3 separate regions of the Homo sapiens genome follow, and regions 2 and 3 are each linked to region 1. Evidence: fine-mapped expression QTL. A gene starts in region 1. Each other region holds a variant in brackets. All regions are shown on one strand. Distances are from middle to middle.

The links.
Region 2: its variant is fine-mapped to the expression of CNGA1 in adrenal gland (GTEx, PIP above 0.99).
Region 3: its variant is fine-mapped to the expression of CNGA1 in synovium (Steinberg 2020, PIP 0.95).

The regions. Positions count from the first base shown.
Region 1 is chr4:48,013,256-48,021,255 of GRCh38, forward strand. It overlaps CNGA1 (cyclic nucleotide gated channel subunit alpha 1), which reads right to left and starts at 3,426. Exons shown (of 11, transcript NM_001379270.1): 1 at 3,228-3,426. NIPAL1 (NIPA like domain containing 1) reads left to right here and starts at 3,517. Exons shown (of 6, transcript NM_207330.3): 1 at 3,517-3,630. The coding sequence starts at 3,585. RefSeq lists an enhancer at 3,107-3,608 and silencers at 3,373-3,702, 3,993-4,152.
Region 2 is chr4:48,065,537-48,076,480 of GRCh38, forward strand. It overlaps TXK (TXK tyrosine kinase), which reads right to left. Exons shown (of 15, transcript NM_003328.3): 12 at 10,866-10,930; 13 at 8,399-8,517; 14 at 5,981-6,138; 15 at 857-2,169. The coding sequence ends at 2,101. Among named protein-coding and RNA genes, the nearest start is that of NIPAL1, 54 kb to the left of the region's middle. The variant G/C (reference allele first, on the strand shown) is at 5,747.
Region 3 is chr4:48,548,974-48,558,578 of GRCh38, forward strand. FRYL (FRY like transcription coactivator) reads right to left here. Exons shown (of 64, transcript NM_015030.2): 34 at 8,480-8,739; 35 at 8,005-8,145; 36 at 4,242-4,410; 37 at 2,521-2,605; 38 at 1,619-1,731; 39 at 500-650. Among named protein-coding and RNA genes, the nearest start is that of ZAR1, 64 kb to the left of the region's middle. The variant G/GGT (reference allele first, on the strand shown) is at 3,271.

The DNA of each region.
Region 1 (8,000 bases):
GTTACCAAAATGTGAACCCCAAAAATTTGAGACAGGTCTCAGTGAATTTACAGTTTATTTTGCCAAGGTTGATAACACAACCCCATGACACAGCCTCAGGAGGTCCTGATGACATGTGCCCAAGGTGGTCAGAGCACAGTTGGGTTTTATACATTCTAGGGACACATGAGACATCAATCAACATATGCAAGATGAACATTGGTTCTGTCTGGAAAGACGGGACAACTCAAAGCAAAGGCAGGAATACTGGAACCAGGGACGGGGCTTTCCAGGTCATAGGTAGATAAGAGACAAATGGTTGCATTATTTTGAGTTTCTGACTAGCCTCTCCAAAGGAGGCGATCAGATATGTCAGTGAGCAGAGGTGTGAGTTTGAATAGAATGGGAGGCAGGTTGGCCCTAAGCAGTTCCAAGCTTCACTTTTCCCTTTAGCTTAGTGATTTGGGGGCTCCACTATTGATTTTCTTTCACAACTCAATAACCCAGGAATAATTAAGGGAAAGGCAAGATGGAGGATGAATTACTCAGCTTACTGTTAAAATTTTCTCAGTGATATAATTTTTGCAAAGGTGGTTTCTACTCCCCAGCTACCACCCCTCTTGTCTAGTCATCTTATTCCTTGCCCCAGAAACCACAGACCTCCCTACAATGTAGCAACTCAGGGGTTAACCTTGACACACCAGGAACCCTCCCAGACCTCCCCAAGCTCGAAAGACCTGTGGCCTTGTCCCTTGAGGCCCTAAGGCTCTACTAATCATTATTTATTTTGACCATCACCCCTGGGTCTAAGTGTCCTAGCACAAAGACCAATAAAACAGAAGTTGGCATTTTAGAGGGTCTCAGTTATTATCGCATTCTAATTTTTGAGTCAGAAGAGTAATTTTCCTAGAATCAAAGAATGGGCTAGTTGGAGATTTTTTTAATGCTCTTCTTTTAGTTAAACAAACAACATGATTTTGCGGGGGAATAAATATCCCCCAACTTTATGTCATTAAAGACAGTGTGTGGTACTATAACGGTATTCCCCAAAGTCATCTAGAAATTATCAATGAAGGAAAATACATATTATAAATTTCTGCTAGGCAACATTTAAACTGGAAAAGCAGTGGTCTTAAATGAGTTTAAATATTTTTTTTCTGAATTTTTTCTCTTTATTTTCAGAATTGAAAAGCAAGAACTACAACAAAATGCCTCTTACCTAAAGTAGACCTTAATATGCAACTGAAATTCAATAAAGATACATTTTTTAAAGTCTGTTTTGTTTTTTAATGTCCAATTACCAAATGGGTTAAGAGCACATACTTGAAGCCCAGCTTTCTTGGTTAGCATCTTGGTTCCACACTTACTGGTTATGTGTGCATAGGCCAGTTACTCAATCTTTGTGTGCCTCCATTTCCTCAGCTGTAAAGTGGGGGTAGTAGTATCTACCTTACAGGATTTTCATGAAGATTTATAAAGCAAATATTTACAAAGAGATTAGAATAGTGCTTGCCACATAGTAAATGCTATCCAAGTGTTTGTTAAATAAAAAATAAGCACCATAGATCACGTTTACCATCATTACTAATTTTTGATAAAGACAAAATTTTAAGTTGGAAATCCAAAGAAAACGTTTAAATAGAAGTCTAAGTTTTGGGCCGGGCTAGGTGGCTCACGCCTGTAATCCCAGCCCTTTGGGAGGCCGAGGTAGGCGGATCACGAGGTCAGGAGATTGAGAGCATGCTGGTTAACACGGTGAAACCCCATCTCTACTAAAAAAAAAAATACAAAAAATTAGCCGGGCGTGGTGGGGGGCGCCTGTAGTCCCAGCTACTCGGGAGGCTGAGGCAGGAGAATGGCGTGAACCCAGGAGGCGGAGCTTGCAGTGAGCCGAGATCGCGCCACTGCACTCCAGCCTGGGCGACAGAGCGAGACTCCGTCTCAAAAAAAACCAAACCAAGCCAAACAAACAAACAAGCAAACAAAAAGAAGTCTAAGTTTTAAGGCTTGTTATGGAAAATTGGCATAAATCTCCCTCGCTTTCAACTTTCACCTATTCCACTCTCCGTGGTGTTCCTTCTCTGCAAAGTCATCCATATGTATTATAAAAGTGGGTGCCTTGGACTGGTATGTTGACTAATTTGTTCTTAGCTCTTCTCTCATCCGCCTAAGAACAAGAAAAACAAGATTGAGGCCTCTGCTATGAAACTCTTAGGTAATAAAATTAATAGCACTGTTCATGCCTACTTAGAACAAAGGCTACCTGAGTACATGAGAATATTTTCCTCAGTGTTAAAATGCCAGAGCACAAAGGCACCCCAGTTCTCCCTGGTGAGGGTTTGAGCCCGAATTGTTCACTACCCCACCCCTCACCTTTTTTTTTCTTGAGACAGGGTCTCACTCTGTTGCCTGGACTAGAGTGCAGTGGTTCGATCATGTCTCACTGTAGCCTCCACCTCCTGGGCTCAAGTCATCCGTCCTCCCACCTCAGCCTCCTGAGTAGCTGAGACTACAGGAGTACACCACCACATCTGGCTAATTTTTGTAGAGACAGGGTTTCACCATGATGCCCAGGCTAGTCTCGAACTTGTGGACTCAAGAGAGCCACTCGCCTCAACCTCCCAAAGTGCTGTGATTACAGGGGTGAGCCACCCGCCAGCCCTGCCCACTCCTTGTTTTGTAAATACCTGCTATCAGGTCTTCCAACCTTGGTTTGGTTACTTAACCTCACTCTTTGCCTCTAATCCCTCATCTGTAAACTGAGCGTTAATAGACTGCTGTGAGATTTAATTAATACATAATGTGCCTGCATATGTATGGTATAACAAGGATATCATAAACATTAGTTATTAATAATTCGTGGAAATAAGTCTTTCCAGTTTTGGCATTGCTTTTCCCTTAAAGGTTTATTTCAAATACCCCTATGACCCAGAAAATGGGGCAGGGTAGGGGGAGTTGCCTGCTGGAGACAGAACGGAGAGTGGATGGATATAGCGGGCGTGGACGGACAGCGACAGAAGCTGATAACAGCACAGAAGGGCAAAGTCTGCTCAGCAGCCCCCAAAATAAACTTGAGCCTGGCAATCGGCGCAGAACCCCAGCAGTCAGCAGCTTCGGTGCAAAGCAACTAACACCTGAAGGCTTCCAAAAGCAGCAGGGCTCTCTCTAGCGGGGGAGCCTTTTCGACCAGAGAGGAGCCAGAAGGGGGCCTCAGTGCAGCCTCCACTCCACTCAATTCCCGGAGTTACCTTGGCGGGCTCCACGCTCCGAGAGACGCTGTTGCTCTATGAGGCGTGTCTGTGTTTCTCTAGTTCGCGGCTCCAGCAGTCGCGCCAAGGGGCAGCTGCTACTCCTGCCAGATACACCAGTTATCACAGGCCGCTCCCAGGCCTGCGGGGGCCCTGAGAATTCGCAACAAGCCCCGGGCAGCAGGGCTCGGCTGGCGCTGAGGCCCCGCCTGGCCATGCCCATTGGCGGAGGCTGCCCCGGGGGCGGGGTCAGGGCGCCCCATTCCCAGACCCCGCAGCCCCGCCCGCCGCGGGTGCGTGTGGAGAGGCCCAGGTGAGGAGCAAGCGCCCGCGTTCCGGAAGCCCGCTCCCGGGGCCATGGGGGCACAGGTGAGGCTGCCGCCCGGAGAGCCCTGCCGAGAAGGTTTGTGTCTGCCCTGAGCCGAGGGACCTGGCAGCTGGGTGGCGAAGAGACCGGGTGGGCGGTCCCCGGACACTTGCGGAGACTGGAAAGGGGGGCTGTACCGACTCTAAACGTAGTCGTTCACTCATTCATTCATTCAGTCAGTCGGCCGTCCAGCCAGGCGTTCAACACTTATTTATGGGTGCCTAGGCGATTCGGGCTGTGCTGGAAAACCTGAGTGGAATAAGGCAGGTGGGACTCCCACTCGATTCGCGAGGCCGACCAGTGTAAATTACCGCGTGCTGCGTGTGGGACGGGGAAACTCAGGATGCTATGGGAAGAATCCCGAGTCCCTCTGAGAAGGACGTTTCCTCTGACTCAGGCTCCCTTCCAGAGTCTGCGGCCGACGTCACCCGGTGGGCAGAGGGCGTGTCTGCCTGGGGGGCCCGTGGGAGTTCTGCGCTGCGCCCTGCGCTGGCTCCCGGGGATCGAGCACCGCGAGAGGTTGGGCGCCCGGGGCCGCGGGGGTGGGCGTTGGGCAAGTCTGGGCCGCCCACGTCTCTCCTCTTCCTTGGAAATGAAAAGGTCTCCAAACCCATGAGCCTGTCTGACTCGCTGTGCAGTCACTCTGGCTGCTTAAGGCGAGAGCCGTACTGGAGAGGAAACCTGGAACCGGGAGCACTCGTTTGCAGGCTCTTCTTACTGCTTCTCACCTGAGCCCCGTGAAATCTCTGGGCGAGGCTCCTTGCCCTTCGCCAAGTGTTCGCAACACTGGCGGGTTTTCTGCAGTCTCCATACAGAAGGCCCCGATAAAAGTAGGGAAGGGGGTAGGGGGAGCGACTGGAAGGATGTAGATACATTGAAATGATGGTTTTCGCCGTACCAAGGGGAAAGCAGCTTTTTAATTTACCTGATAATGCAGTAAAGGGGAAGGGAGGCAGTGAAAGGCATGGTAAGAACTACTATATATATACACATATATATATAGTTCCCTTACACATATATATATATATATATGTATATACATATACACCTTTGCAAAGGTGCTCGCAACTTCCCTAGTTTCCTCTCCTCTTGACTCTTCCAGCTTATTCCTTTTTAACAAGTGAGCTCGTCCAAACCATGCTAGCAAGGAAGAGAAGGGACACCAAAAAAAGGAGAAAAATGCCTGAACAATTCACAAGCTATTAAAAAAAATTTTTTAAGGCCGCTGGATCTAGAATTATTTTCTAGTCTTTTTTTCTGAAAAAGAGCAATAACGCCTGAACAACTCACAAACTATTAAAAAACAAAAATTTTAAGGCAGCTGAATCTAGAATTATTTCCTAGAGAGTCAGGTTGTGTGCCCTTTTTCTAAATAATTTCTAACCCAGCAAATCTGACAGTTACTAACACACCCACACTTGTTTACCCAAGGATCTGTAAGTAAGGAAGGTATATGAATTACACCCACTTGTTTGAGCTTCTGGATGTTTTTCCTGCTTTGCTTATGCATTGAGTTCCAACAAGAAACATTTAAGCTCCAGGCTTAATACCTGTGATTAACCATGGTAATTAATTGTGTGAAAAGCTGGTGAGAAAGACTTAGAAATCTGAATGCACGTTATTAGTAGTGGGAAGAGATTAGGCTTTGGCATCAGACAGTCTGAGCTGTAACTTAGCTTCCTTGAGCATTTTCCTGTCTATAAATTGGGGGTCATCCCTCCAGTTTACAGTTCTGAAGAGTAGGTGCAGGTGGGATTACATATGAACTACACCACTCAGAGCTTGACATGGAGTAAACAAAGACTCAATTTTTCACTTGTTCATTCAAATAACAAGAGTCCCATGTGCCAAGCACTGGCATAGGTGCTGGGATAGAGGGATCTGCAAGACAGTCTGGTCCCAGACTCTAGGACTAGGTTCCTGCTCTCAGGCACCTTACTGTTCAGATGGCAGCTACTATGCAAGAAACAAAGTAATTTAAAAGATCATTATAATAGCAGTAATGTATCAAGAGTGTTGGGATGTTTAGATTGGGTATTCAATGAAAGCCCCTTACGAAAGTGATATTCAAGCTGAGACCCAAATGACAAGGGGTCAGTCATGAGATCTGAAGATAGAACATTCCAGTTGAACTTCCATGAAGAAAAAGTTAATTTCATACTTTGGTTTTGACTTTTTTTTGTTTTTTTGAGGCGGAGTGCCACTCCGTCACCCAGGATGGCATGCAGTGGTGCAATTTCAGCTCACTGCAACTTCCACCTGGGTTCAAGCAATTCTCCTGCCTCAGCCTCTCAAGTAGCTGGGAATACAGGCACATGCCACCATGCCCAGCTAATTTTTGTATTTTTAATACGGGTTTCACTGTGTTGACCAGGCTGGTCTTGAACTCCTGACTTCAAGTGATACTCCTACCTTGGCATCCCAAAGTGCTGGGTTTACAGGCATGAGCCATCCCCCACCCCACATTGGTTTTGACTTTTAAAGCTATAGATGCTTCAAAAGAGTCTCTAATCCAAAATTATCTTTAAAAGAAACAAATGCAAATATGTATGAAGGTTGTTATAAAGCTGTAATTAAGCCATATGAGGAAGTCTATTTGATTGGGAACATATGATGGAAAGTGACTGAGAGGTTCCTTTAGATTGGGAAGGCAGGAAAGGCCTCTCTGAGTTGCTTAGTCCTCTCACTCAGAAGAAGCTAGCTATGCCAGCCAGCACTCTGTAACAGGCTCAGGAACAGCTGCTTTTTAAAAAGCTTAAGGTGAGAAGGAACTTATTCTATGAAAGGAACAGAAGAAAAGGCAATAGTAGGGAATGAGGTTAGGCAGCTGGAGACAGGATTCCACAGGGCCTTATAGGCTATAGTGGGAATTTTGGATTTTTTTCGGAATGAGAAGGGAAGCCCTTGTGGAGTTTTGGAAGGAGGAATGACAAGATCAGACCTACTTGTCTAAAGGTTCATTTCACCTGATCCTTCTCCCACCTACTCTTTAGCCACATCTCATACCATCTCCCTTTCTGTCACCCCAGGCAACCTGGCTGACTGCAGTTTCTTCAACCCCTCAGGGTTTCTGCTTTTAGACTTAGCAGAGAGGCTCTTTTGTTTAATCCTGTTTTAAAAAATATATTCCTTGATGCTGCTTTTACTACTTGCTATGGCACTCTTAACATACGTATAGTTATTTGTTTGTTAATCCTATCTGCCCCCACTGGAATATAAGAGAGCGGGACCATTGTTGTATTCATTTTTCTATCTCCAGATTCTAGAAAATGCCCAACAGGTAGTACACCATACATATTTGTTGAATGAAGGAAAAGAAGATTAGTGTTTCAGAGAGGGGTGAGAGGGAGAGTAATGCAATATGATGTCAGAGACGAGCCAGTTTCAGAGCATGAGAAGCTTTAAAGTTCAAAGTTAGTGAGGAGTTGAGATTTTGTTGTAAGTTGAGATGAAAAACCATGACAGGGGACAGGGAGTATTAAGCCAGGGAGTGATATAACCTACTTCCCACTGGTTAGCGTTTGGAGAATAAATTGTAACAGATATAAAGAGATTTCATTCAGTCATTCCCATGCTAATATGAATAGGCAGGTATATCACATATTCTTGCTTAGGTTTCTAGGTCAGCTGAAGGTTGACTGATCTAGATGGGGCTCACCTATATGTCTCTGCTTCAGGCTAATGTCCACCTGGGTTTGGCTCCTTCATGTGGGATGAGCTCAGATCTGCTCCATGTGTCTTCATTTGGGTGCAGAGGCTGAAGGGACAGCAGCTCCTCAGGGAATTACAGAGATGCAAATGAGTAAACCCAACCACATAAGCATCTTTGAAATCTAGCTTCATATCACTTCTGCTGACTTCCCATTGGCCACCAACTTACTTCCAGCCCAACATCAGGTGAAGCACCTTTGCCCACATTGGGAAAGGTAAGGGGCTGAATACTGAATGAATAATAATCCAAACTATCACAGTAGAATAGATGGTGAGACCCCCAACTGGAAATATCTTGCGGTGATTAAAAAGGTAGTTTTATACAATTATTGACTTTCTTAAAACCAGATTTCTATTCCATGTAATAAACTGGATAATTTAAATTATTATTTAAATTTATATTATTATTCTCTATAGGCAAATATTTGACAAATTATTTAAAGCATTTCATCCTTATATAAACATGAATAATAAATTTCAACTGGCTTTTTCTTGTACTTTATGTTTTTATTTTTCTGAAATAGAATGCTGGCTGGGAATTGGGTTACTTGGCCCTGGTTTTAGCAGTTACATAACTTTGGCCAGTGTCACTTAATATATTGGCATCAGTTTCTTTAAAATATCTCTCCTCTATCAGTGCCTATGAGTTTAGAACTGGTCCATCAGCAACATTTATGAGGCACCAGTATTGTAAG
Region 2 (10,944 bases), 54 kb after region 1:
TGTTAAAACAAAAGGAATAGAGCTTGCCTAGCACCTTAGAAGTGCTGCACCCTCTTAGAAGTGCCAGGCACTGTCATAGTTGTTGCCCTCTTAGAATGATTTGCCTCTGGGTGTCACTCTTTGCTCTGTACCTGGTACAACTATAGTGATGGCAGATGCTCCATACTCAGTCCTAGCTTTTCAGTGTTTGGCTTTGCTGGGTTTTTTCTTTCTTTCTTTTTGAGAGAAATGGGGACTTCCAAGCTGAGTAAAACCTGGAAAGGGCAACTTACTGCAGCCATATATTGATACTACATTATTTCCTATGTCATAATATTAACCTCCCTTCCATCTGCTTTTGCTGTTTAGTAGTCTCATGTCTTCTTGAGCTAGACTATCTTATGTAAATTCATGTTATGTGAATTGAGGTCTCAGTAATAACAGCCTTCTGTCTTTCCTCACCGTAACAGGAGTCATAGGAAAGGGGGTGTGATAGTCTCAGAAACAGCCTAGCATCTCATACAAACTTGTTTCTGTTTTTGAGACAGGGTCTCGCTCTATCACCCAGGCTGGAGTGCAGTGGCACAATCATGGCTCACTGCAGCCTTGATCTCCTGGGCTCCTGTCTCAGCCTCCCAAGTAGCTGGGACTACGTGCATGCATGCACCACTACACCTAGCTTTTTTTTTCTTTTTTCTTTTTTCTTGTAATAGAGATAGGATCTCACTTTGTTGCCCAGGCTGGTCTCAAACTGGGCTCAAGTTATCTTCCCACCTTGGCCTCCCAAAGTGCTGGGATTATAGGCATGAGCCACCACATTCAGCCCAAACATTTCTGAGACCACTACTTGAACTATCAAGTCTCCTCTTGTAACTGATTCTCATTAGAAATAATACACATTTATTGAATGTCATTGATATATAAAGATACCATTCTTTGAGTGGGGGAAATATAATTTAAAAGTCGCAACTACTGACAATCAACAAATAAACTCTAATGAGAATCATAAAGCTTGTTCCCAGAGAACCATGATACAGGGTGGGACAGTACGCAAATAATGGGCTCCTGTTGTCAGACTTCATGGTGATTACATTAGTGCTTTCTCCAGTATCTTTCTTCCTATTGTACTCCTGAAGCACTCAGAATGATAAAGATAAATTTCTGATCATTCCTACAAAGAGTGCAGGCAAAGTTAAGATTTAACTGTGATTGCTGGTTGTTTCATCTCGAATTCAAAATCCTGGATTTCCGAAACAATGGAGCTTGATGTCACATTTGGCTATCTTGCTTTTGTCTCCTCTTCTGGAAAGAACAAATCATCTTCCTGAAAATTACAGGAGACACTTAGTATGACAAAATAAGGCCTCTGAAACTGTCCAATCTCACATGTAAAAAGTGTAAAATCACAGAACTAAAATCAGGTTCCGGATTTTCCTGGAAATAGAATGTCACCGGGATCTGTTCAAAGGTGAGCTTTGGCTACATTTTATAACAGTGTTTAAAACTCGAATGCAAAAAACTGCTTTCAATATAATCAGATATGTGCAAAAACAATTTGTTAAATAACATGGGAAGATTATATTAACAAAAGACATTTCCAGAATACTAACATTCATGTGATTTATAAAGGTGCATTTTCTGTAAAGAGCTATACAGCCCAAAAACATGAAATTCTTCAAGGGAGTCCCCTTTATCCCATGAGTTGGAAGAATTTATTTTCATATTCTATGCATGGATCACTGAAGTGATGAATGTCACTCGTCTTCAAGAAGGAAGCACTCTCAGCCTTGTGAAGAAGAACCTCAAGGGTTCCTGGGGCTATGATCATGAAGAGCACCACAATGAAGACTGCTGCGAAGTCTTTTTCACTTCTTCACATTTGGGATGTGAAATATTTTACAGAAAAATAAGAGTGTGCAAATCCCTCTCACACATAGAAAAACGATTGTGTGAATATTCTTAAATTTTTAAAACTTTTAAAAACTGTGATCTTTGCACTGTTTTCAAGAGTCAGCAACTCTGAAGAAAGATATTCACCATAAGTGACCCCATATGGTGAAGATATTCACAATAAATGACAGTTTTGCAAGATGACTCTTTGGGTTGGCATTCTGTTTCCGGTCACCAGGTTTCCGCAATCTCTGTGACAGCCCGCAGCAGCTCGGCAAATGTAGGGCGGCCTTCAGGTTTCTGGAAAAGGGAAGTGGGGGTGGTTAGCTCAGCTTAACCAACTTATGCCAAGGGTTCCATTTTTGGAACGCTAAGCATGTGGGAGTCACTTATATCCCACTGCTCGAGGTCATCGCCAAGGTCTGATTTTTCACTCATGCAAAAATTCAAAAAATTGCCACCTGCGGCATAAATAGGCTAAGGATCACTCAGAGACCAGCTCTGGAACTTGCTGGCAGAGACCTGAATCCAGGCTGGCTCTTCACAAAAAGGAAGAGAAAGATATCTTGACTGACTGACATAGCACAGCATGATTGGCAGTTGAGTGAGGCGTGAATATGAAAATGTTAGAGAATGTTGCAAAAATAAAACGGCTAGACCTGCAAACACTAGCCACATGTGGCTATTTAAATTTAAATTCCTTAAGATTATATAAATGTTTAAATTCAGTTACTCAGTCGTGCTAGCCACTTTTCAAGAACCCAATAGCCAGAAGTGGCTGCCATATTGGGCAGCACAGATATAGAACGTTTCAGCATCTCAGAAAGTACTCTAGGACACCACGACCCTAGAGATATATTTGAATGACTTGACATGTGTGAGGTAAAGAAAGGGCTGGGAGAAGGGGCATCTAGCATACCAGGCTCCCAAGCTCAGTTCAGGGTATCTATGACACCTGAGCCATTATAGAAAGGAGGATTTCAGTCAGAAAGCAAAAGGCATGTTTTCATGAGGGACTTTGAAGGTCTTGGGGCACAGGTTGTGCTTTCAGTCTCAGTCAACAGAAAAATAAGAGTGTGGAAGTCCCTCTCACACATAGAAAAATGATTGCTGAATATTCTTACATTTTAAAAAGTTTTAAAAGCCTGTGATCTTTGCACAGTTTTTGAGTCAGCAACTCTAAAGGAAGATATTCACCATAAGTGACCCCATATCCCTGGTCATGGAGCCAAGGATTGGAGCATTTTTTCCTACTTCACTTAGGGGTGTGGTTTAGCTCTGATTCCAAGAGGAAGAAGAGATGGCACTGTCAGCATCTTTTAAAACCATGGGAAACAGAGCTACTCATAGTAGCCACATTCTCACAGGGGTCATTGACAGTAGGGTCAGCGGAAAGACACCCCTCTTCATGGCTTATAAACAGAGAGCATCAGTAAAATAAACAGAGCAGAAGACAGCACAAGTGCAAGTGAGGGTCCTTATTGAGACTCTGGGCATAAATTGTGGAGCTCTGTGAGGAGCCTGTTTCTGCGCATGAATCCTGAAATTTGTCTCTCAAAGATAGCATAATCACGTTTGACTCTAATGCCCTAAGCACATGGGGTAAAGCTGTAGGCAATATCAACTTTTGCACCTGACATAATGACTCACATCTGTAATCCCAGCACTTTGGGAGGCCAAGGTAGGAGGACTGCTTGAGGCCTGGGCAACAAAGTGAGACCCCATCTCTAGAAAAAATTTTAAAAAATTAGCTGGTCATGGTGGCACATCACTGTAGTCCCAGCTATTCAGGAGGCTGAGCTGGGCGGATTGCGTAAGCCCAGGAGGTCAAGGCTGCAGTGAGATGTGATTGTGCCACTGCACTGTAGTCTGGGAAACAGAGCAAGACTCTGTCTCAAAAATAAATCAATCTTTTCTTTTCTTTTTTTTTTTTTTTTTTTGAGACAGTCTGGCCCAGTCACCCAGGCTGGAGTGCAATGGTGGGATCTTGGCTCACTGCAACCTCTGCCTCCCAGGTTCAAACAATTCTCCTGCCTCAGCCTCCTGAGTAGCTGGGATTACAGGTGCCCGCCACCATGCCCAGCTAATTTTTTTGTATTTTTAGTAGAGACGGGGTTTCACCATGTTAGCCAGGCTGGTCTCGAACTCCCAGCCTCGTGATTCGCCCACCTCAGCCTCCCAAAGTGCTGGGATTACAAGCATGAGCCACCACACCCGGCCAAATCAACTTTTTCAAACAAATAAATCGACATAACCACACCATTGTATTAATCAATGTTCTGATTGCAATTTGAGACAAATGTTGTTTACATGGTCCTTCTGACAGCATCCTACTTATCACTTCCCTTCCTCCTTCTATGTCTCAGTTCCACTTACATATAACATCTCAATAAGCATTATATTACACACACACGTGTGTATTATTTCATACACAACATATACTTCTGAGCTACTTACATTGTTATTGCAAAGATGCTCCTAAAACGGCTGCTTATTACTACTCACTGAACATTTTTCTGAACATTTTTTTCTTACAGCTTGCTGAGCATTTTTCTATGTCTTTCAAGATTCCTTGTAAAGTAGTTAATATATGTAAAATATTTTCATACATTGGGGCTCTCTATAAATGTAATGCTTTTGGAATATGAATAACCACATCACTCTTAAAATATTCAATATTCTAGTGTTTGTGGATTGATAATCAAGTGCTTTATTTTTTCAGCCAGGAGGAAACTTCTCATCAAGCTGCAATTTCCAGCTGAAACTGTCAGCTGGAAAGAGACCAAAGCTCTCAAAATCAAAGGGAATTTCACTGAGAAGGGCAGGGGTGTGTTGAGTCAGTGCCCAGAGGTGGAAAAGAAGCCCCTCTGGCTTTATTTCTAAGCTTGGCATTTCAACAAATAGAAAAACTAAGTTCTGGAGAGATTTCTTCCTGAGTGGAAGTTCCTGACACACTTTCTGCCTCCATTCCTATTCTAGTTTAATCTGTAGCAGGAGTCCTGACTGCCAGAAGACAGATGAAACCCATTACTATTAGCGTTGGAAAAGCAAGACAAAGCAAAGTTGAGTGAAGTAAATGGAAACACCATCTTTCTTTTTCAACCTGGAAATTTAACAAGCCTGGTTCTACCCTTAGTTTCCACCATTAATTCTTTTATTTATTTGCTTATTTATTTATTTATTTATTTTTTGAGACAGAGTCTTGTTCTGTTGTCCAGGCTGGAGTGTAGTGGCGCAATCTCAGCTCACTGTAGCCTTTGCCTCCTGGGTTCGAGCAATTCTCCTATCTCCGCCTCCCAAGTAGCTGGAATTACAGGCATGCACCACCAGGCCTGGCTAATTTTTGTATTTTTAGTAGAGACAGGGTTTCACCATGTTGGCCAGGCTGGTCTCAAACTCCTGACCTCAAGTGATCTGGCCACCTCGGCCTCCCAAAGTGCTGGGGTTACAGGCGTGAGCCACCACACACAGCCTCCATCATTTAATTCTTTTTTTTTTTTTTTTTTTTTTTGAGATGGAGTCTCACTCTGTCGCCCAGGCTGGAGTGCAGTGGCGCCATCTCGGCTCACTGCAAGCTCCGCCTCCCAGGTTCAAGATTCTTCTCCTGCTTCAGCATCCCCAGTAGCTGGGATTACAGGCATGCACCACCACGCCCGGCTAATTTTTGTATTTTTAGTAGAGATGGGGTTTTACCACGTTGGCTGGGCTGGTCTCAAACTCCTGACCTCAGGTGATCCACCCGCCTCGGCCTCCCAAAGTGCTGAGATTACAGGCATGAGTCACTGCGCCCGGCCCATTAATTCTTAAAGCTAATAAAACATCTAATCACTGAGGCTTGAGTAACACCAAGAGTTTCTGCAAGAACCAATCTCAAACA[G/C]ATAAGACTCAGAAAATGCACTGAATTCCTCAGATAAAAGGCCATTGTTCAAAACAAAATGGATTCATGACTTTGTAGTGAGTTTGAGATAGTACTTCAGACTCTCAGGATCATGACCAAGACACAGATGCCTTTTCCTGCCATGACAGAGTTCTGAAGTAATGTTTGTGATAATCAGGTCTGCTCTCAGATGCTGGGACTGCCAACCTTCATAGGAAAGTAACATATGCTTACCTCATGCCAGCAGCTGTACATGACTTCATATATGGACATTGGTGCCAGGTGAGGGCGATATAGCCTGAAGCCTTCAGAAATAGCTTCCACGACTTGCAAATTTGACTTATTTTCAAAAGGCATTTTTCCTTCTGTAAAAACTTCCCACATTAAAACTCCTGCAAACAAAAATGCAGGAAAACAAGGGGTTAGAGAGAAATGATTGCTTGGGAACTGAAAGAACAATTTCAAACTACAAGGCATTATTTTTGTGCTCCAGGCTTTGGGCTATAACCATCCTGAATAACAGCGGTTCTGTCAAGGAAGCAAATCATGTTCACTTTAGTTTTCAAAGAGGCCTGTAACCTGAAAATAATCTAAGTGAAAACAATGCCTTTCCTTGTCCATGGGTCTTGATTGCCTCTCCTATCAGGAGAAAATGCCAGTAGCATTTTCTTTTCTTTTTTTTTTTTTTTGAGACAGGGTCTCGCTCTGTCGCCCGGGCTGGAGTGCAGTGGCATGATCTCAGCTCACTGCAACCTCTGTCTACCGGGCTGGAGTGCAGTGGCATGATCTCAGCTCACTGCAACCTCTGTCTCCCGGGTTCAAGCAATTCTTCTGCTTCAGCCTCCTGAGTTGCTGGGATTATAGGTGCCCACCACCACGCCCAACTAATTTTTCTATTTTTAGTAGAGGCGGGGTTTCACCATGTTGGCCAGGCTGGTCTCGAGCTCTGACCTCAGGTGATTCGACCACCTCAGCCTCCCAAAGTGCTGGAATTACAAACGTAAGCCATCACGCCCGGCCTAGCATTTTCATTTCTAAGCAGCAGTCACGTTCCTGCATCCTGAAATCAATGAACCTTTCTGCCATTCCATAGAAACTGACAGGATTATGTGAGCCTCTGCTGCCTACTTAGCCAAGAGTTTCAGCCAGTAAATGGCATGTGTCCCCTTCTTTCTGCTAAAAGATTAGACTGATGGGCAGAGCCCCAGAATATCTAGCAGGGGCTCTGTACATAAGTAGATGTCCAATAATCATTGATTGATTGATTAGTGAAACTCCTGCAAGAACTCCTAATTTGAGTTCATTTAATTATTCACTTATTCTACAAATATTTACTAGACATTGATGAGAGGCGAGGCCTCTGCTGGGGCCTGGAGATTTTATAAGTGTGAGATCAATCCATGTGCCTAAGGAGCTCACTGTTCAGTGAGGGAGACAAGTAGGTAAAATTCAGGGAGTTCTAATTGTTTGGCAACCTTCGATGAGGTCGTTATATTGCTCTTCATTGGTCTCTAAGATGTGGTCTCACAACCTAATTGCTCTTCAGTAGAGCTTCAAGTGTCACCTGCTGAGACTATCATATGTCCATGGAGAGCTAATGAGATTAATGACACAAGCTTAACTTTATTGTATGTTTTTAAATTTATGTTTTAATTTTTTTGAGGCAGGGTCTTGCTCTGTCATCCAGGCTGGAGTACAGTGGCACGATCCTAGCTTACTATAACCTCAAACTCCTGGGCTCAAGCAATCCTCCTGCCTCAGCCTCCCGAGGAACTGGGACTACAGGTATATGCCACCACACCTGGCTAATTTTTTTTTTTTTTTTGTAAAGACAGAGTCTTGCTAGGTTGCCCAGGCTAGTCTTGAACTCCTGGTCTCAAACAATCCTCCCACTTCAGCCTCCCAAAGTGCTGGAATTGTAGGCCTGAGCCACTGTGCCCAGTTTTAACCTTATTGTAGACAATAAAACTGACACCCTTCTGAGGACCCAGAACCCACAAGCCTCCAGGAAGTTTGGGGTGAAAGAGGATAGATAGATTTTTGCATATTTATTACCATTTTTTGAAAATCAACCCCGAAACTTCATTGGACGTGGGTCTATGGTGTCTCTTTCTCAATGAAGAACATTATCCAATATGAATATCAATTTATAGATCCCAAGGAAGCCTATGTCTAAATTCCACAAACTTTAAAGTTAAGGAAGTAAATGAGATGCCACCATTTTTTAAACTCAGGTTTTAAGTTCAGGTTAACAACTGAACAACTGGAAAATAGTCAACCTGCTTCACAGTTTAGACAATTAAGTTTATTAATTACACTCTAAACAATGTCATAAGATCATTTTTCCTTCAAGCCTCTGCGGAGTGGAAAACTTATCTGAGTTTGTTTTCTAGATCAGTAGACTCTTTGTTATGGTTTTATAGTGAGTGCCCATGGAGGAAGGAAAAGATCCAAAAGGCAGACTTATGTAAGAAGGTATGTGACACCAGTTGCCAAAGACAGTCGGGATGTGGTTAGAACACACAGAAGGAAGCACAATTACAAGAAGACTTTTTAAAAAATGCTATATCAATTAGGAAATCAAAGTTAAAAATAACACATTGCCCATTTTATTAAATCAAGCTCCAGCAAGTGAACATCAGATGCACTCACCAAATGACCAGACATCAGATTTACTGCTGTACTTATTGAAAAGAAAAACTTCAGGAGGGGACCACTTGATTGGGAACTTGGCTCCAAAAGAACTGACATACTCATCATCCAAAACGTACCTAAGTTTATCAGATTCAAAGCATATTGTGTTAATTACCTCCAAGCTCTATTTACTTCAAATCCCTTTAGTTAACTCTAAGTTGCTAAAAGACAAAGTATTTTACCCCAGAAAGGTTGTGGATGCCTTCTTGTTAGTAGAGTGTGAAAGTGTCCCTGATAATGTTTCCTCCCCAAACAAAGTCTCAATTGTATTTGTTTTACGTGGACCTCTGAAAATCATAATGCTGCTTCAGTTCAAAACATGGCTCACTGTTTATGTTAATTATGGTAAATTCTTAACTCTACAAAGAAGCCTGCTAAAGGCTCTAACAACCAAGATTATAAAAAGGAAATAAAAGACCACTCTTCCCAGGGGTGGGGAAAACAAAGACCACTCTTCTTAAAATGGAAATGAATGATTCAAAGTTGGATGTCGAATTTTCTTCCATGTGCATGTTTTTTTGTGGGGCATACAGAAGGGGGGAAAGTAAAAGTATATGAACATAATGCTTCTGATATGACAAATCTCTAATGCACTAGAATGGCCCTATATGGAAAGAAACCAAGAATAACTACCGTCTCCTTAAAAAAATAACAAGTTGAACCCTCTCTCTTTTTTGAGAATTGTACACCGGGATGTCCAAATGTCAGACACTGAGGAGAAGAGACAAAAATAAACTTGTGCTTGTTGCCCCTTAAATATACAATATAGTGTTTTCACAGCATTTATTAATGCTGCCCCTATACTCTCACTTTTTTTTTAAATACACTACCTCCCTCCACCTGTCAGCACTTTATTGAGTCAGAGGTCATTCTACTTAGGTAAAGAATGACTAACAGAAAACAAAGAGAGAAAAGCCACTGTTTATAGATTTTGAATTTTTCAAGTCTAGGCTCTTCAGAGAAGAAAGATTGAGTTATTAACAAAATATCTTGGAAAATGGGCCATGAACAGGAGTGAGATCTCACTACCACCACCCCTATTACCACCACTATCTAGAAAAAGATCCCCTGAGCTTTGGGGGGATCTTTTTCCCCCAAAAAGAGGAATGGGGGAAATAGAAGGGAAAGAAAAGGGGGGTACTAGACATTAGTAGATCAGTGGGTTAGGGTCCTGTATCTTGTACCCTAAAGGGCTGCCCAAGTACTTTAGGAAAGAAGCTCCTACTCCCACATTAGGTTGGTGGGATTTAAAAGTGACACAGAACCAGTGCTCTTTTCCCCAGGTGGAGCCCTTGGAAAGGCAGAAAGATGCCAGTGAACAAATGGCTGTGGATGTGCCTAGGTAAATGAGATCTGAGATCACACCATGGAGTTTTGTAATCATAAAGAACGCCGGCCAGGTGAGACTGCTCACACCTGTAATCACAGCACTTTTGGAGGTGAGGTGGGTGGATATTTGATGTCAGGAGTTCAAGACCAGCCTGGCCAACATGGTGAAACCCCGCCTCTACCAAAAATAAAAAATTAGCTGGGCGTGGTGGCATGTGCCTGTAGTTCCAGCTACTCGGGGGGCTGAGGCAGGAGGATAGCTTGAGCCTGGGAGGTCGAGGCTGCAGTGAGCCGAGAGAGCACCACTGCACTCCAGCCTGGGTGACAGAGTAAGACTCTGTCGAAAAAAAAAATTGCCAGTTCTGAATGAATCTTGCAGAAAAAATTCAGTACGTGTTAGCAGCTACCTGTTTGAATGGCCAGCCAAAGACAAGACCGGAGGATGGTGGCTGCAATGATGCCATGCACACAGATAACAAAAGGACCAGTAAGCCACCTCACTACCAGTACTATAGCCCCACGAGACACAAGAACTTGGACTTTGAAGCTTAGGGAAGCTAGAGAGAAACCCCAAATTCCCTGTGATTATATTTCTAGCACCACCCCAAAAAAGGATGCTCAAAATTTAAACTATATTGAGTTGTAGAAAAATATGGTTAAATTTTTCACACTCTTGAATTTTAGACTTAAAGTCAACTACTATACTTAATAATAGAAATGTTTGGTGAGGACACAGAAAAATCAGAGCTGAGCAAACAAATTTATTTCTTTTTCTTCCATAAACATATGTATATCAGGAATGCTTTTTTCTTCACGTTTCTCAGTGTATCAAGAAATTCCTTTTTTAATTTTAAGATATACCATAGTTTTGCTAAAAGATGAGAAGAATAGCCCACAGTAAACATTTACCTCACAGCTAAAATTGGTACATGTCCCAAAATTCAAAGTGGGTCAGTAGGCCATACAACCAGGCCTACAACCTAGGAAGATAAAAACACAGCCTGCAGCATCTTCAGTTTATCAGTAAACAAATGTAAGATTCCCTCTTATGAGTAAACAAACAAACAAAATACATATATATATACATAGCATGTACCTTGTCATTCCAAAGTCTGAAATTTTTACTATGCATGTTGAACTGACCAAACAATTCCTTGCCGCCTATGGAAAGAAGA
Region 3 (9,605 bases), 540 kb after region 1:
GGAACAGAACATAAGGGCTAAGGGTTCCTTGAACTCAGGAGCCACATTTTCTTCATCTTTCAACCTTGAGACTTAGCACACTGCTTGCCACAGTAGGTGTTCAATACATGTTTGGTGCATTAATACATTTTGAAAGAATGCAGTAATTGCTCTATTGTGATTTTGCTAAGTAGAATTCAATTTAACTCGATGCAAAATAATAGTGCCTACCATAGGAAAGTCATATTTTTCAGATGTAGTAACTGGGTCCCAGAAAGGTCAAGTAACTATGCCAGACACCCAGAAAAGCAGCAGCAGAATTAGATTTAATAATATTAATTTTATAAAGTTAGAATTCTGAGTTTTTTAGATTTCTTAGAATCTAAACACATTGATCTGTGTTGCAGTATCTCCATAAAGAAGATTGCTTTCATTCTGTGTTGTCAGATAGCACAAAGAAAGCCGACAGTGTTCAGCAGCAACTTGGTGCATATGTAAAAGGAATGACGCTGTAGTCCACCTGTGAAGAGGTAATCCAGGTGATGACGTTTCAGGCACGTAATCCACCAGTGGTGACCAGCAGCCTCCAGCTGGTGGGAAGGGCAGTGGCTCTCCTTGGTTATGCTCCATCACTTTCAGTCGCCAATTAGAATAAAGTGGCATTGAATCACCTATCAAGATAAAATGATCTCATTTTCTACACCATCTAATTTCTGCCAATATAAGCAAACTCTAGTAAGATCCCAACTATTTATATAGTATTGGAAAGTGATAAAAAAAATTTCCCACTATTTCAACATGTTTGCTAGGAAAATCTAGGCACAAATATTATCAAATTAAGCAAACCAGGGAGAGGGAGAGAGAGAAAGAGATTAATTTAGGTTCCACCCTGTACGTCAAAGCAAAACTATATTAGCACTTCATCATGATTCCATCAATGATGTCCAAGCCAGGAGATCACATTATTGGTGAAGCTGCCTTGTAACAAAGGGCCTTCTGGTAAGTTATTCAGTTCTAAATATCCTGAGATAGGGCCAACACAGCTCCATCTTGAAAGGAACTCTGCTCTACCACAGTGGGGCTGCGGGGTGCAATAAAAAATGTCAGGAAATGTGAATTCTGTGTGACGTGGGTAAGTCACTTAACCTCTCTGGACCTCAGTTCCATCATGTGCAAAATGAGGAGATTGGACCAGATCATCTTCAGTGTCCCTTCCCAGTCTGAAAGCCTGTGCTTCTATGATACCCTGCCTTAACGTTATAGTGAAACTTGGGTAGATTATTCACTTTGCAATTGCCAAGGGAGAATCTTTTAAGGAAAAAGTGAATCCATGCAGAAGGAGCAATCCTGCTAAAAAAAATCAGCCTGTTTCCAGTATTTGTTCTATGATGCTTCCTGAGAACCAGTTCTTATGTTCCTTGTGATTTATCTATAGGAAACCAGTGCTTTAAAAAAAATTTCACCCAATTACGTTGCTTCTTAAAATCAAGATGTTTCAGATTATGTTGGAACACCACTAGTGGCAGTTAAATACGCTTTTTAAAAACAATTTACTGAAAATATATATTTATTAACATTAATGTAATTAACAATACACCTCACCCTTATAGTTATATTAAAAACATTTGGAATTTATTACTTTTTTCTTCTTCATAAGATCCTCCAGAGCTGCTACTGTATCGGGATTCTAGTCTGTGATGTTGCCGATTCAAATGACTGTTTAGTCCACTGTAAATGTCCAGGTGCACATAGCTATGGGAATGATCACTGAAGTTAGTCACAGTTCACGGTGCAATGGTATTTATACTTTATGTTTCACTTTCTCTGTTTAAAAAAGGAGGACGGACGCCATGGTTCAAGCCTGTAATCCCAGCACTTTGGGAGGCCAAGGCAGGAGGATCATGAGGTCAGGAGATCGAGACCATCCTGGCCAACATGGTGAAACCCCGTGTCTACTAAAATACCAAAAATTAGCCGAGCGTGGTGACGTGTGCCTGTAGTCCCAGCTACTCCGGAGGCTGAGGCAGGAGAATTGCTTGAACCTGGGAGGCAGAGGTTGAGCTGAGATTGCACCACTGCACTCCAGTCTGGCAACAGAGCGAGACTCCATCTCAATAAAAAAAAAAAAAGGACACAGTACACAAAATACTAACAAAAGTTTACTATGACGTACATTAATTTCCACCTTATAATCCAAAAGCTTAAACTTTTAATCAATTATTTCTACCTAAAATAATATTCTGGCATACAAAACAGGTGGAGTAAATACCATTTATATAGGTCTAAAACTTTAAGCAATACAAAAAGTGACTTACCATATACCACCTATTTATACATTAGAGCATATAAAAAAATCTAGCAGGCTAGCATCTTTAATGTTGAAACTCTCAATGTGGAAAGTTTCCAGCATGGAAATATATTTTTTTCACTCGAATTTTAACACAGCAACATCCACATTTCAATGCAGAAAATATCATTTATTCTGATGACAACCAGTATCTGTCAAACTGAAAGGCTAATACAGAACAGAGAAGTACTTACCTCTCTTCAATATTCTCTTTAATGGGCTTATTATCAGGATTGCCATCTGTGGGAGCTACCATTGTATTGCTACTGGAAGTAGTTCCTGTAATCAAAGACAAAGCAGTACTCGTGAATCTACAAACCTGGAATAACCCAATAAGAACAAAAGATCTCAAATTATAGATATCAAAACTTAACTAAAATGAGAGCAAAGTCATTTAAAAAAAGGAATGTACTCATAATGACCAAAAGGGAAAGGACATAAGACAAACAAATTTTTGGATGCTAGAATACAAATGGACAGTAAGTAATTAAGTGTTAAGAAGGCTGAATCCAAAGGTGGTGGTGGGTGAAAACCAAGAAGCTTCCATGTTTATATTGCTGAACTTCCAAAAGGTAGCATCGAGAACCTCTGGAAACAGGGGTTGAAGGTGGTGCGAAAAAATAGGAAACCTGGCTGAAAGTCAATCTATTTTAGAAGTAACTGGTTCCCCAAATCTACTTTCTTGCCTCTTGCAGCTGGGTGGCTGTCTTTCCCCACTTCTAGAAGTCTTTTCTGATGAGAGTAAATCAGAAGATTCCTGAACTAGGGCACGCCATGTACTCCTGAAAGAGGAGGCACCTTACAAAGAACAGGGGCATTAAATGAAAATGCACATGCTAAAATTTGAGACTGCACCCCCCCCAACATCCTTCTTACCCCACTGGGCTTCCAGAAAGTTTGAAGCCTGTGTATATGTGTGTGTATAAATATAAACAGTCCAAAGG[G/GGT]GTGTGTGTGTGTGTGTGTGTGTGTGTGTGTGTGTGTGTGTTCAGACACACCCTCTGCAGGCAAATGACTAGAAAGAGTTTTCTCTAGGGAATCTGATAAATCTAGGAGAAAAGACCTACAGACGTTGGCATCACTGAAATCATGGTACGACAAAGCACACAGACAACAAGTTCCATATATACTTATAGAACTTATATTTTTTTTAATATTCTACTCTTTATGAAAAGACAGATCTAGAATTGGTAGGCTTTTGAGAAAAGTTTTATCAACACAAAACAGCAATGTAGAGAAAATGAGGACTTCTGCTGGGAGAAAACTTTATAACTGTATTGGATACGAAACAACAGTCCAACTATGAAACATGAATAGGATGCTACTTTAAAAAATTATAATTAAATGAAACTTTAGAATTAAAAACATTCTAGCCGATATGAAAAATTCAATAGAAGCATTATTAGACATCTCCTGGAAAATAAAACAAAAGGACTAGGTGATGAAAATGGATGGTAAAAAATAAATTATAAAGAGATAATTTAAAATATTTCTAGTTTTACAGATAATGTTATTAGCATGCTGAAAACATTTAAAGTAAACTGAGTAACAAAGAGTTTAACAGAAATTTCATCTACAATAGCCTTTTTACTATTTTGAATTTCATTGGATGTTCTTCTATTAGGAACATAGTTTCTTCATACTCAAAATATTACAATAATTTTAATATATGCACATACATATAGGTGTGTATATATATATACATTTAAAGACACAATAAACTCTTGTTTAACAATTATGTTAAGCTTCTCTTTCAATACTGAGGAAGATTTGTTTTTTTCTTTTAATAAATTTTATTGTATATATCTGAGATTCATAACATGTTATGGGACATAGAGACCCTAAAATGGTTACCATAGTGAAGCAGATGAAGATGTCTATCATCTCACACAGCAATCGGTTTTAACAAATTTCTCACCTGAGGTGACAGAAGGGATTTTATAGCTGGAAGTGATGCGATAATACGGGGGATTATCCATGTGAGTGACCCCTGAACTGACAGGATCGGTCAGCTGAAGCTCACTCACCAGCTCTTCTAGCAACTGCATTGTTTTATCTCTACCTAAATATACAATGACCTTCTTCACCTGTCACAAAAGAAATCGTTCAGAAAAGAAAAAGCAAAGTTTTTATCTCATTAATTTCTCCTGAGACAAACTTTATCAGAGTAAGTTCAACTTTAAGTGGTAGATGAATAAACACAATCTAAATCAAAATTAGCACTGATCAACAATAAGACATTAATCAGCTTTATCAATACTGTCCTCCCTCTAACTCTCAGCATTAGATCTAATTAGGGTGAACTGAGTATGTTTAGCGGTTTAGTGGTTTCCACTTTATGCACTTTCTTTACTTTAAAAAAAAAAAAAAAAAAAAACAAAAAAATACTTTTCTGTAAAAATTTCTCTTTTAATGGAAACACAGGTAATAACATCCTAAGATTTTCCTCTGATTTTTAGTTAGCCAGCCTCCAAACCCAGGGTTTATCTTTTATTCCGCCTTCCCCATTCCCTATAGTCAACCAGAGTAGTCATTAAGAGCAAAGAACTAGAACTAAATTAGAACTCCAACTACATTGCCTGGTTTGGAATGTGGATATACCACTTACTAACTCTATCATTGGAAAGTTGCTCTCAGTTTTCTCATCTGCAAAATGGGGGTAGTAATAGCACCTACTTCATATAGCTATTAGGAAGATTAAATGAGTTAAGGTTTATAATGCACTTTAAAAATGGCTAGTAACACAGTATAAGTAGAAAAACTTTTCAGTAGTATATACATATGTTTTAGTAATGTATATTACTGAAATAACTTCATAACTGATCAGCCTATCTCTTTTTCTCCCTATTTTAATCCTTACTACTCAAAATGTGATCCTAGCAAGACAGGCATCATCATCTGGAGTTTGCTAGAAATAGAGAATCTCAGGCCCACCCCACCTCCAGAATCAGAATGATTCGTATTTTTACAGACATATGAAAAGCACTGCTTTATATGACCCCTGGATGAATCTTAAAACATGATTTATTATATCCCAACCAAATTCTTTTTTTTTTTTTTGAGACGGAGTCTCGCTCTGTCGCCCAGGCTAGAGTGCAGTGGCACCATCGTGGCTCACTGCCACCTCTGCCTCCCCGGTTCAAGCAATTCCCCCTGCGTCAGCCTCCGAGTAGGTGGGATTACAGGTGCCTGCCGCCACACCCAGATAATTTTCGTAGTTTTAGTACAGATGGGGTTTCATCATGTTGGCCAGGCTGGTCTCGAACTCCTGACCTCAGGTGATCCTCCTGCCTTGGCCTCCCAAAGTGCTGGGATTACAGGCGTGAGCCACAGCACCAGGCCAAAACTCTTATCATGGTTACCCAGTGATAACCTTCTAGGTATGGCTCTTTACTCCATCCAATGGGCACTACTTGCTAATTCTCTCTATTTTCAGGTTCGATCTCCTCTGAGCATGCTGTGTGCATTCCTGCCTTTGTGGGTTCCTTCCGCCTGACTGTGGATCTCCGAGTTGACACTCCCAACCCTAATCCTATCAAGTCTTCAAGCCCCATCCCCCACCTTAACTCTACTCCTTTCTCCAGGAAGCTTATACTGACTTCACCATCAGATCTGGGTTGGAATTCTAGATCTATTAAGTGACAAGAGTGAGAACTTGAGGAAATTACCGTTCTCTCTGCCCTGTTTTTTCCTCTGTAAAACTGCAGTGATCTCACCAAACTCATAGATTCTGAGATTTAAATAATGTGGATGAAGTGCTTTTACCATGCCTATAATAAGCACCCATAATAAGTGCTTAAAAAATAATAACCAATAAATTATTATTGACATTTAAAAAATGGCTCCTTTTAAATTCCTGGAAAATGGCTATTCCCCAAATTTTCATTTGGCCTCTTAAAAGTATAATCCCATGCTTTTTCTAGTACTGACTCTAACTCCCCCATTCGTTCATCCAATTAATGGGCACCTTCTATGTGCCAGGCACTACACTAAATGGAAATTTAGCAGTGAATCAAATAGACAAAAACTACCATTCTTAAGGAGCCTACAATCTACTGGTTGATGCAAAATTAATGAGGTAAATAGGTAAAATATATCATGTGTTTGGTGATGATTAAGTGCCAGAAAGATCAATGAAGAAGGGAAAGGAAATGGAGTGTGTGTGTGGAGGTGGTGCATTTGCAGTTTTAGACAGGATGGGCAGCAGAAGTCCCAGTGGGCACTGCCACCTGAAGGAGGACCTGAAAGAGGTGAGGAGTGAGTAACGTGGCTAACTGGGGAAGAGAAGGCAAGTGAGTGTGAGGGCCCCGAGGAGGGAATGCCTGGTGAGAGAGGTGGAAGCAAAGGGGGCCAGCGCAGCTGAAGGGTGGGAGCACCAGACAGAATATAGGAGACACAGTCAGAGAGGTAACGTGCGGTAACGTTGTCTTGTACCATACACCTACAGTTCTCTAAGCACTTCTCAAAGGCACTATGCCTGTGGTACACCTTGGCAATGATGCTTTCAGTGACCAAGTGAACTTGGGGAATGCTGAGTAAAGCAAAGCTATCAAGTGGTTTGTTTAAAATAGAATCTGTAGAACTTTTATTTATTTATTTATTTTTATTTTATTTTTGAGATGGAGTCTCACTCTGCTGCCCAGGCTGGAGTGCAGTGGTGCAATCTTGGCTCACTGCAACCTCTGCCTCCTGGGCTCAAGCAATTCTCCTGCCTCAGCCTCCTGAGTAGCTGGGATTACAGGCATGCGCCACCACACCCGGCTAATTTTTGGATTTTTAGTAGAGATGGTGTTTTACCATGTTGGCCAGGCTGGCCTCGGACTCCTGACCTCAGGTGATCCGCCTGCCTCGGCCTCCCAAAGTGCTGGAATTATAGGCATGAGCCACTGCGCCTGGCCTGTAAGAACTTTTAGATAACATTCTGTAGGACTAGTCTTCCGTGGACCACACTTTTGGGGGATGCTGCCACGGGATAGATATCTATATCTGCATCTACAAAGACATGTGAGCATGTGTGTCCATTTAACCCTCAGGTTTCATAGTTTCATATCAAATGTGTCCTCTTGACTTGGGCAGATCTGGATGTTCCTTTCTCCCCTGGAAGGCAAAGATGTTATCTTCTTCGTTTCATATCTCTTACCATGCTTTCCCTTGCTTCCAGCAGCCTGAAGGACAATCCTACGTGCACTGAGCTCACACTCACCATCCTGTTCTCATATCTAAATGCCAGCTCTGCCTAGCAGAAACTAGAAACATCCCCAGTGTGTGGTTTCAGCTTCAATATCACTTTCTCTCAAGTGTCATCTTGAATCCTTCCAGACAGCTGTGGTTCCTAGGTTTTTTACTCTCAGAACTCTGCAATTTTTTTATAGCCTTTATCACACTATACTTTATTAGCTTACTGATTTATTCATTAAATAAATCAGATGTAGCTTCAACAAATAAATTCTGTATTACCCATCAGATTGTAATACCCAGAAGAGCACCTGGCCTGTCATAATGATAGATAACATTTGCTAACTGAATCAGTGAATAAATCCATGTGCTATTTCCTGACTGTCTTCATCCCGGCCCTTGCCTTGCCTTGCCTCTCCTGGGCAACTGCTGCCCATACTCTGACATCACAAGATACTAGTAAATATATACATATATTTTAAAATTAAATGAACTTGAATACATACGTAAGGCAAGAGGCTTGGTTCGCTATTCACCCCACAAATGCTGATCAAAAAGTGCAAAATTATTTTCAGGTTTTTGGGCCAGCCATCTGCAAGTGTGGTCCACACATTCTCCACCTCCGACCAGGCCAGTTCATCGCCATACTAGATGCAATATGCACAAAAGATACTTCAGTCATGACTGCCTATTATAAAAACCAAACTTGTCATACCATGAAATATTAAAAAATGTTTTGTACAGATAGCTTTAATCGTTTCCACACTTTACAGAAACAATAATTTCTTCCAACAAATCTAAACATAAATATAATTAATCATATATGGTTTTAGTAAAAAAAATTCATATCTAATGAGTCTTTTTTAAAGAAAGATATTTGTTTGGTTATCACAGGATTATGGAACCTCTTCATCTGTTTCTAACCACATCTACTCACTCAATAATTCTGTGCAGCAATTATAAATACAAAACTCATTTTACCTTTGCTGTCATATACATCAGATTGTTCAAAACCATTGCAGTGGCTTGTGGAGATCCCCATCCTTCTCCCCGTAACCAGCGCCTACTAGTCACCATAAGTTCTCGGTCTTTTAAGGAATCATCTTCATCTTCATCATGTCGCCTTGCTGTGGGGAGAGGTTTTAAGTCCACCAGCTCGATGTTGTTCATCCATGGTAGCAGGTAGTGCAGCATCACCTGCCGCCCAGCAGGGTGAGCTGTCTGGATTCTCTGGCTTATCTCTGAAATTGAAAACAAGTCAAAGATAACTGATGTAATTTCAGCTTCCTCTGACCCGTAATTAATTCCAACAGATTTCAGAAGCCAGATTTTATTCATTTTACTCATTACACTTAACAATTATGAGTATTGTTTTTCCTTTTAGCAAATTTCACCTCAACGACATCATAAAATTAACAGCTAACATAAATCACATACATTTTATACAAAATACTTTTGGCAGTTAAAATAAATGTTTGTGCACTGTTGGTGGCATTGTAAAATGGTGCATACTTTCTGGGAAACAGTATGATGGTTCCTCAAAAAAATAAAAATAGAACTATCATATGATCCAGCAACCCCACTTCTGAGTATACATTGAAAAAAATTGAAAGCAGAAACTCAAACAAATATTTGTACATCCATGTTCATTAACAGCACAATTCACAATAGCCAAGAGGTAGGTGGAAGCAACCTAAATGTCCATTGACAGATGAATGAATAAACCAAATGTATATACATATAGTGGAATATTATGCACCCTTAAAAAAGGGAAAACAGGAAAGAAATCCTGTCATATGCCACAACGGGGCTGAAGCTTGATGACATTATGTTACCTGAAATAAGCCAATCACAAACAAAAATACAAATCAACATATATGTATGATTCCACATATATGGAGTACCTAAAGTAGTCAAATCCATAGAAACACAAAGTAGAATTCTGATTACCAGAGCTTGGGGGCAGAGGGAAAAGCAGGATTGTTGTTTAGTGGGTATAGACTTTTCAGTTCTGCAGGATGAAAAAGTTCTAGAGGTCTATTTCACAACAATGTGAATACACTAAACAATTCTGGAACTTAACTGCATACTTGAAAATGATTAAGAT